Homo sapiens: one gene and its partner. The protein of the gene in region 2 purifies or fractionates together with the protein of the main gene of each other region. This does not show direct contact. Each region holds a gene or a part of one and is shown on either strand. Other genes may lie near its edges.

Region 1 (3,826 bases), on a different chromosome or scaffold from region 2:
AAATACCTACTAAATGAATGTAGAGTAACAACTTAATTTGGTGCTACCCCAAATGACTTTAAGTGCCTCATGAAAAGTGAATTATGAAATCTTGCAGATGATTTGAAATCAAGATCTTTTCTTGATAGTCAAGTAACTGCTGTTGAAAAAGTTAAAGATTTAAGGAAAAAATCACATATTTAAAGATGACAACTGACTGGATATTATGGACTATCAAGTCCTGTAGGTACTCAATAATTTTTTTTTTCTTTTTTTGAGACAGGGTCTCACCCTGTCACCCAGGCTACAGTACAGTGTCGTGTTCTCGGCTCACTGCAACCTCCATCTTCCAGGCTCAAGTGATCCTTCCACTTTAGCCTCCCAAGTAGTTGGGGCTATAGGCACATGCCACCATGCCCGGCTAATTTTTGTATTCTTCTATAGAGACAGAGTTTCACCATGTTGCCCAGGTTGGTTTTGAACTCCTAAGCTCAAGCAATCCATCTGCCTCGGCCTCCCGAAGTGCTGGGATTATAGGCATGAGCCACTGCTCCTGGCCAGTACTCGATAATTTTTTGTGGCTGTTTGAAGGTTCAGTATTGAGGAAGATGTTATGAAGTAAATGCCATATTTCTATTCTGCTCTTCTTCTACCTCCCACTTCTCTTCCTAAACCCTTTTAATTCTAACTGCTGATGGTACTCTTATAGGATGTATATTATATATATGTACATACACACACACATACACCCTTATGCATATGTATGTATACACACACCATATATAGTATGTGTATATATGTGTGTGTATATAAATATATGTTTATATGTATTTAAATAATTTTGATTAGTATTGCCCAGTAAAAAGGATACCAACTATGAATAGTTACATATATTAAATATACATCATGATAATATTAAGATGACAAGTTAGATATTAGACCTTAACTGTCTTTTTTTAATCCTCTTTTTTTAGATACTCTTGCAGATTATCAGAGCAGGTTCATTGCACTATAACTAATCTTGCTGTCTCTGTTGCATGAGTGCAAAAGATAACATAAAATGGTTGTCAAGCAGTATCTTCATTTTCAAAGGGGGGAAAAGTTGACTTTTGTACAAGCCAGTAAATTTATTGTTGATTCCTGACAAATTTCAAGATTGAGTCATTCAACAGATGGCTGTGGGACTTAGAGAAGAACACGGGACCAGCATGGGGTGCAGCTCAGGAAAAGCAGTTGCTGTCACATAAATGTGTATCCTGTTTTGGTAGATTACTATGTTAGTAGAGAACTGTGTCAACATACTATTCTGTGTCTGAATTTCAGCAAGCAGATAGAGCCACAGGATTCCTCTTCTAGACTCACGGTGGGGAAGCAATAGCAAAGACTCCTCAGGAACTGCAGCAGCATGCCACTCTAAGTACCATAGTGGCCTCCTGCTGAGAGTTGTTGCTTTGTTCAGAACTGAATTCTAGGAGAGGATCTGAAATCATACTTGTTCCCCTCAATCAATAAGAATATGGCCTTGGAGTCACGAACAAAAACTAGGGTCAAAGCCCTGTTTCATCACCTTGTAGCCAGGTAACCTTGAGCAAGCCACCTAAGATCTCTGTATCTCCATAATAATGTCCACCTCTCAGCGTCAAGGTAAGAACGAAAGGATAATGCTATATCGAGTGTGCAGTATCCCACCAAACCCAGTTTTGGGGCTCTCCTGAGGGGGCAGTCAGGGTGTCAGCCAGGGCTGCAGCCTATGGGTGCCATCCATCATCCAGGCTTGGGGCAGCATTGGCCTTGGGAGCCAGTGTGGCATCTGATTAAGGATGTGTGCTTTGGAGCTGACTACCTGGGTTGGAATCCCAGCTCTCTACTTACCAGCATGACTCTTCCACCTTTCAAGACCTCCATTCCCTTCCTCTTCATCCAGAAGTAGCTGGAGAATGGTATAGGAGAAGCACACAGCCCAGTCCAAATTTCTGTTTTATAGAGAACACAGGCCCAGACAAAGCCTCTTAGTGAGTTGCCTAAGATCATCAGGAAGTGACCAAGCAACAAGCAGAGCTCAGGATTCCCAGATTAATGTCGGGAATGTCTGCTATGCAGCGTGCCCACATTTACCACAGTTCACTGCCGGGGTGGCCCAGTTTCGCTCTGGGGCCTTGATCCTTATTACTGAGGGGCTGTGCTCCTTCCCAGCCTGAGTGTCCACCCTCAGAGTCCCCCACTTAACTGCTTCTCCCAAAGCTCATGGTATATCCAATTCTGAACACAGCAGGAGTCAGCTCACATTCACCCCAACCCAATCTCAGCCCCTCTGTCAGGGGAAAGACTCCAAATGAGTAAAACTCCCAAACTCTCCTCTGAAATGCATTTTCAGAAGGAAAAAAAAACTTTTAACTTATGGGTATTATTCATGCTTGTAATTTTAAGCGAGGACACTTGGCTGGAGAAAAATCACCTCTAAAAGTGGCTCAATAAAAAAGGCTCCAGTAGCCCAGAGTGTGCTAGCGCAGTCCTGGGCTGGACTGATGGGTATTGGTTCATGCTTGTCCTTTTTAGTCACTGACACAGTCTTATGACTGTTTCCTTTCCTGCTAGAAAAGGAGATTCCCAGGTTTCTTTTCTATTTCTTGATCACTCTAAGGTGAGATAATTACCCAATATACCACGATTACATTTTCATTTTAAAATTTGAAGTAATTTTGGACTTACCTAAGAGTTGCAAAATAGTGCAGAATTCATGAATACACTTTACCCAGCTTCCTCTTTTGTTAACGTCTTGTATGGCTGTAGTATAATGATCAAAATGAATCAATTAGTGCTAGTATACCACTATAAAGTGCACACAGTATTTGAATTTCACCCGTTTTTCTGCTTAATGTCTTTTTTCTGTTCCAGGATCCTTTTTCTGATCCAGTTTCCCCACTTTGCATTTAATTGTCACTTATTCTTGGCTTCTAATCTGTGACAGTTCCTCAGCCTTTCCTCTTTTTTCGTGACCTTAACACACTTGAAAGGGTGTGAGAGATTTTGTAGACCATCCCTCAGTTTGGATTTATCTAAACTCCTCCAATTCCCATGGGGGATTCGAGATGCTCTCTGACAATCACCTTCACAATCTATAGAAACAACACATTTAAGAAAACCACATCAGTATCTCAAGACTTTAAGTCAACCCGTAAACCTACCAAAATGCATTTTTCAGATGGGACTTCAGTGATTGTCAGAGAGCCTATCAAACCCCCCATGGGAATTGGAGGTGTTTGGCAGTTTGTTTTCTAGTAGGGACTTTTGTTGACATCTCATTTCACTCATTTAGCACAAACACTGCATCTGAAGGTAGCTTGCAGTGGGAGAATATTGCTGGCAAGGTTTGCCTTTTCTCACCCAATATAGAATTTTGAGGCTGTGATTTGGCTCTTCATTCAGTCAGGAATGCAGCATGGGAAATAGAGGTTTTCAAGCCTTCACTCCCTGCTGCCTGCAAAAAAAAGTGTCCAGTCATACCTGCCTGTCCTGCTCAATACCCACGATATGATGGTCAGGAGAGGAAGAATGGGCATGAGGTTGGTGCCTGTGCCAAAGGGAGATAGGAAGGTCTGAGTTTGCACTGAGTCCCAAGGGGTCGCAGAGATAGAGGCTGAGCAGCAGGTCCCTTGGCAGCTGCCCACGCTGTTTCTGTTTCAGGAAGCTGACAAAGCCAGAGGTGGGTGTCAGCACATCCCCCCGCCCCCTCTACTGAAGTCACCACCTGACTTTTCCAGGCTCTCCCTCCTCATCCAGGCGTCACAAGAGCCACCATCACTGGGACCACAAGAAAACTGGCCTCCAATGCATGCTTCTGAGTCTT
Region 2 (3,826 bases):
GACCCTTCAAAAACAACTTACATTTCAAGAAGAGAGAAATTCCATTTTGACAACTATACTCACGAAGATACTTCTAGTCCTCAGAGTAGGCCTTTGGCTTCGGATTTGAAAGGTACGCAAGTCCTGGTAGATTAGTAGAGATGTGTTTAAGATTCTTTTAGCCTATTGGGCACTACAGAGTACAGAAATAAGGAGGAAACTTTAAAATGAATACAATTTTGTTTTGTAAAATTTGTATCCAATTTATTATACAGTGAAATTATTTAGGAATTTTTTCTAGATAAAATATATATTATTTTGTTTATATTATGTGCATTGTATGTGTACAAACCAAGTTTGGCAGTGAGCAAGAGGGAGTTAATTATTATTTTAAAGTATAAGTAGCACTCCCACCTTAAAAGAATTCTTTTTTTTTTCCCTAGGAATTCCAAGTAAACTGTATCATTTGCTTCCATCCAAGATATATAAATAAACTGCTAAAATCAATGTTTCAAAACCTTTGTCCAAGTACTTTTTCCCCCCACAAAATAATTTTAAATTATGTGATTACATTAACCTGGTAATTGATTAGACTAGTTTTTAAAATTAGAAATTGGAATTAAGTATATATTTTATACTGTCAAGAACGGTGGCGAATCTGAGATTTTACCCAACTAGTAAGCTCATATTTTAGCCTGCCACAGTTTTGTGGGTTCTAGTGGAAGTCACAAGACTCCTGAGCGAGAGATTAAGGAGAGTTTGTTACAATAGCAGGAGCCAGGGAATCAGCATGTTTGCATTGGTTGTCCAAGCCCCAGTTTCTACAGGCAGTGTAAAGAGGATCACACAGTGGATTGCATTACAGGAGAGAGTGAGCTTAGAAACCCGAGTATTATAACGGATAGTAAGATGCCTGCCCTTTCCTGTAGGTGGAAACAATACACATGCCTGCCCTGGCTCCAGAGGAAACACAATCTCTAGCTTCCAAGGTTGCAAGCACACCTGTTCTGTGCTCCAGAGACACTCTGTCTTCCAAGACTGCTATTCAAATATTCCTTGTTGAATTCTGTCCAAAGCTTTTTCTACATTTATTGGAGGTGATCCTGGTTTTTCTCCTTTAATCTGTTAATATGGTAAATTATGTTAATTTTGAAACACTAACCTTGAATTCCTGGGATAAACTCCACTGGGTGATGTTGTATTATTCTTTTAATATACATTCCTGGATTCAATTTGGTAATATTTTGTTAAGGATTTCTGCTTCTGTATTCAGAAGGATGTTGGTCTGTATTATTTTCTTGTAATGTCTTTGTCTGGCTTTGGCATCAGGAAAATCCTGTTGGGAAGTGTTTCCCCTCCTCTATTTTCTGAATTTGTGTAGGATTGGTATTATTAATATTATTCCTTCCTTAAATATTTAAATATGTAATACTCATACATATTTGTAAAATATATAATATGTAAATATTCACCAGAGGGCCTGGATTTTTCTAAATGGGAAGGTTTTACATTGCTAAATGATTTCTATTAATATAGAACTACTCAGATTTTCTATTTCTTGAGTTAGAGTTGACAATTTTGTATGTTCTGAGGAATTTGTACATTTCATGTAAGTTCTCAAATGTATTGTCACAAAGTTGTTCATAATATTCCTTATTAGCATTTTAACGTTCAAAGGACTTGTAGCGATGTCCCCTCTTTAATTTCTGACATTGGTAATTTGGGGATTCTTTTTTCTTTATTATTCTTGCTAGAGTTTTACCAATTTTATTTTTCTTTTCAAAAAATCAGCTTATTATTTCATTGATTTTTCTTGCTGCTTTGTTTTTTTCTTCCATTGATTTCTGTTCCTATTTAGTAATTTCATTCCTTTGGGTCGTCTGGTGCTACTTGGCTCCTTCCCTAGTTTCGTACCTGCATTAATAGCATCACAGAGTCTGGTATGTTTTCATTTTCATTCAGTTCAAAATACTTTCTTTTTCACTTGTGATTTATTCTTTGACCCAATGGATTGGAAGTGAGTTGCTTGATTTCTAAATGTTTGGAGATTTTCAGTTATTTTTCTTTTATTGATTTCTAATTTAATTCTGTTTTGATCAGAGAACATAATCTTTTTTAATTTATTGAGACTTGTTTTATTGCCCAGAATAAGGTCTGTCTTGGTTGATGTTTCAGGTGAACTGGAGTGTTCTATAAATGTCAACTGAGTAAACGTGGTTGACAGGTTTGAGCAAATCTATATCTGTACTGATCTTGTGTCTGCTTGTTCTAACAGTTACTGATAGAGGAACAGAGAAGTTGATTTGTTCATTCTATAAATTTGTTTAGTGTGTTTTAAAGCTCTTTTAATTTTTATTATTAATATTTTTTTTTTGAGATGGAGTCTCACTGTTGTCAGCCCGGGCTGGAGTGCAATGGAACAATCTCAGCTCACTGCAACCTCCACCTCCTGGGTTCCAGCAATTCTCCTGCCTCAGCCTCCCGAGTAGCTGAGATTACAGGCGCCTACTACCATGCCCGGCTAATTTTTGTATTTTTAGTAAAGACGGGGTTTCACCATGTTGGCCAGACTCAGTCAAACTCCTGACCTCAGGTGATCCACCTGCCTCGGCCTCCCAAAGTGCTGGGATTACAGGCATAAGCCACCGCGCCTGGCCAAAGCTCTTTTATGTATGCATACACATTTAGCACTATTATGTCCAGTTGGTAAACTGATACCTTTATTATTATGAAATAACCTTCATTATCCCTAGGGGTATTCCTTGTTCTAAAGTCTCTGATATTGATATAGCCCCTCTAGTTGTCTTTAGATTGGTATTTGCATAGTATATCTTTTTGCATCCTTTTATATTTATTTTGTAATGATGAATCAGTAGGAGAAACTCTGAATAGTTAAATAATAAATATATACCATGAAAATGGATTACTAAATCCTGAAAATCAAATATAAATCAAAGAACTAAAGTATTAAGAAAATAACTAATGGTGAGCACTATATCCATTTAAATACAAAATTAAGATTAAAGAACTGTTTGAATTATGGTTACAAAATAGAGTGTTAGTGTTAAAAAAACATTGACAATATAAAACAAACAATATAACTAAAAAGTTAGGTGCATCCTTTTACTTTTAACCTACCTTTGTCTATTTTGTTTACTGCTGAATCCCAGTGTCCAGAACCATGCCTGGAATATAGCAGACACTCAACATCTGTTAAGTGAATGATGAATGAACAGGCTGCCATTACACTAGAATATTAGGCAGAGGCTGGGCATTCACCTTGTACGAACATTATAAAGAGTTTTAAGTATCAAGAAGTTTAGACAAAATTAGCTGGGTGGGGTGGTACATACCTGTAGTCCCAGCTACTCAGGAGGCTGAGGTAGGAGGATCGCTTGACCCCAGGAGTTTGAGGCTGCAGTGAGCTATAATTGTGCCACTGCACTCCAGCCTGGGTGACAGAATGAGACCCCATCTGTTAACAACAACAGCAAAGCTTAGACAAGATGACATTTTAGGTCACTTTCTTTCTTTTTTATTTTTTTGAGATGGAGTCTTGCTCTGTGGCCCAGGCTGGAGTGCAGTGGCCTGATCTCAGCTCACTGCAACCTCCGCCTCCCAGGTTCAAGTGATTCTCCTGCTTCAGCCTCCTGAGTAGCTGGGACTACAGGCATGTGCCACCATGCCCAGCTTATTTCTGTATTTTTAGTAGAGATGAGGTTTCACTATGTTGGCCAGGCTGATCTCGAACTCCTGACCTTAAGTGATCCTCCCGCCTCAGCCTCCCAAAGTGCTGGGATTACAGGCGTGAGCCACCACGCCCGACAATTTTAGGTCACTTTCTAAC

Evidence for each region.
Region 1: the proteins of CCDC110 (region 2) and TGFBRAP1 purify together in Homo sapiens (affinity purification with mass spectrometry; one large-scale study listed by BioGRID and IntAct). This does not show direct contact.

Annotation. Positions count from the first base shown.
Region 1 is NC_000002.12:105,323,148-105,326,973, reverse strand, and holds part of TGFBRAP1 (transforming growth factor-beta receptor-associated protein 1), read left to right. Parts: intron 1-3,826. UniProt on the Homo sapiens protein: Plays a role in the TGF-beta/activin signaling pathway. It associates with inactive heteromeric TGF-beta and activin receptor complexes, mainly through the type II receptor, and is released upon activation of signaling.
Region 2 is NC_000004.12:185,454,412-185,458,237, reverse strand, and holds part of CCDC110 (coiled-coil domain-containing protein 110), read left to right. Parts: coding exon 1-112; intron 113-422; coding exon of another isoform or gene 423-472; exon of another isoform or gene 473-496; intron 497-908; coding exon of another isoform or gene 909-1,042; exon of another isoform or gene 1,043-1,837; coding exon of another isoform or gene 1,838-1,902; exon of another isoform or gene 1,903-1,919; intron 1,920-3,826.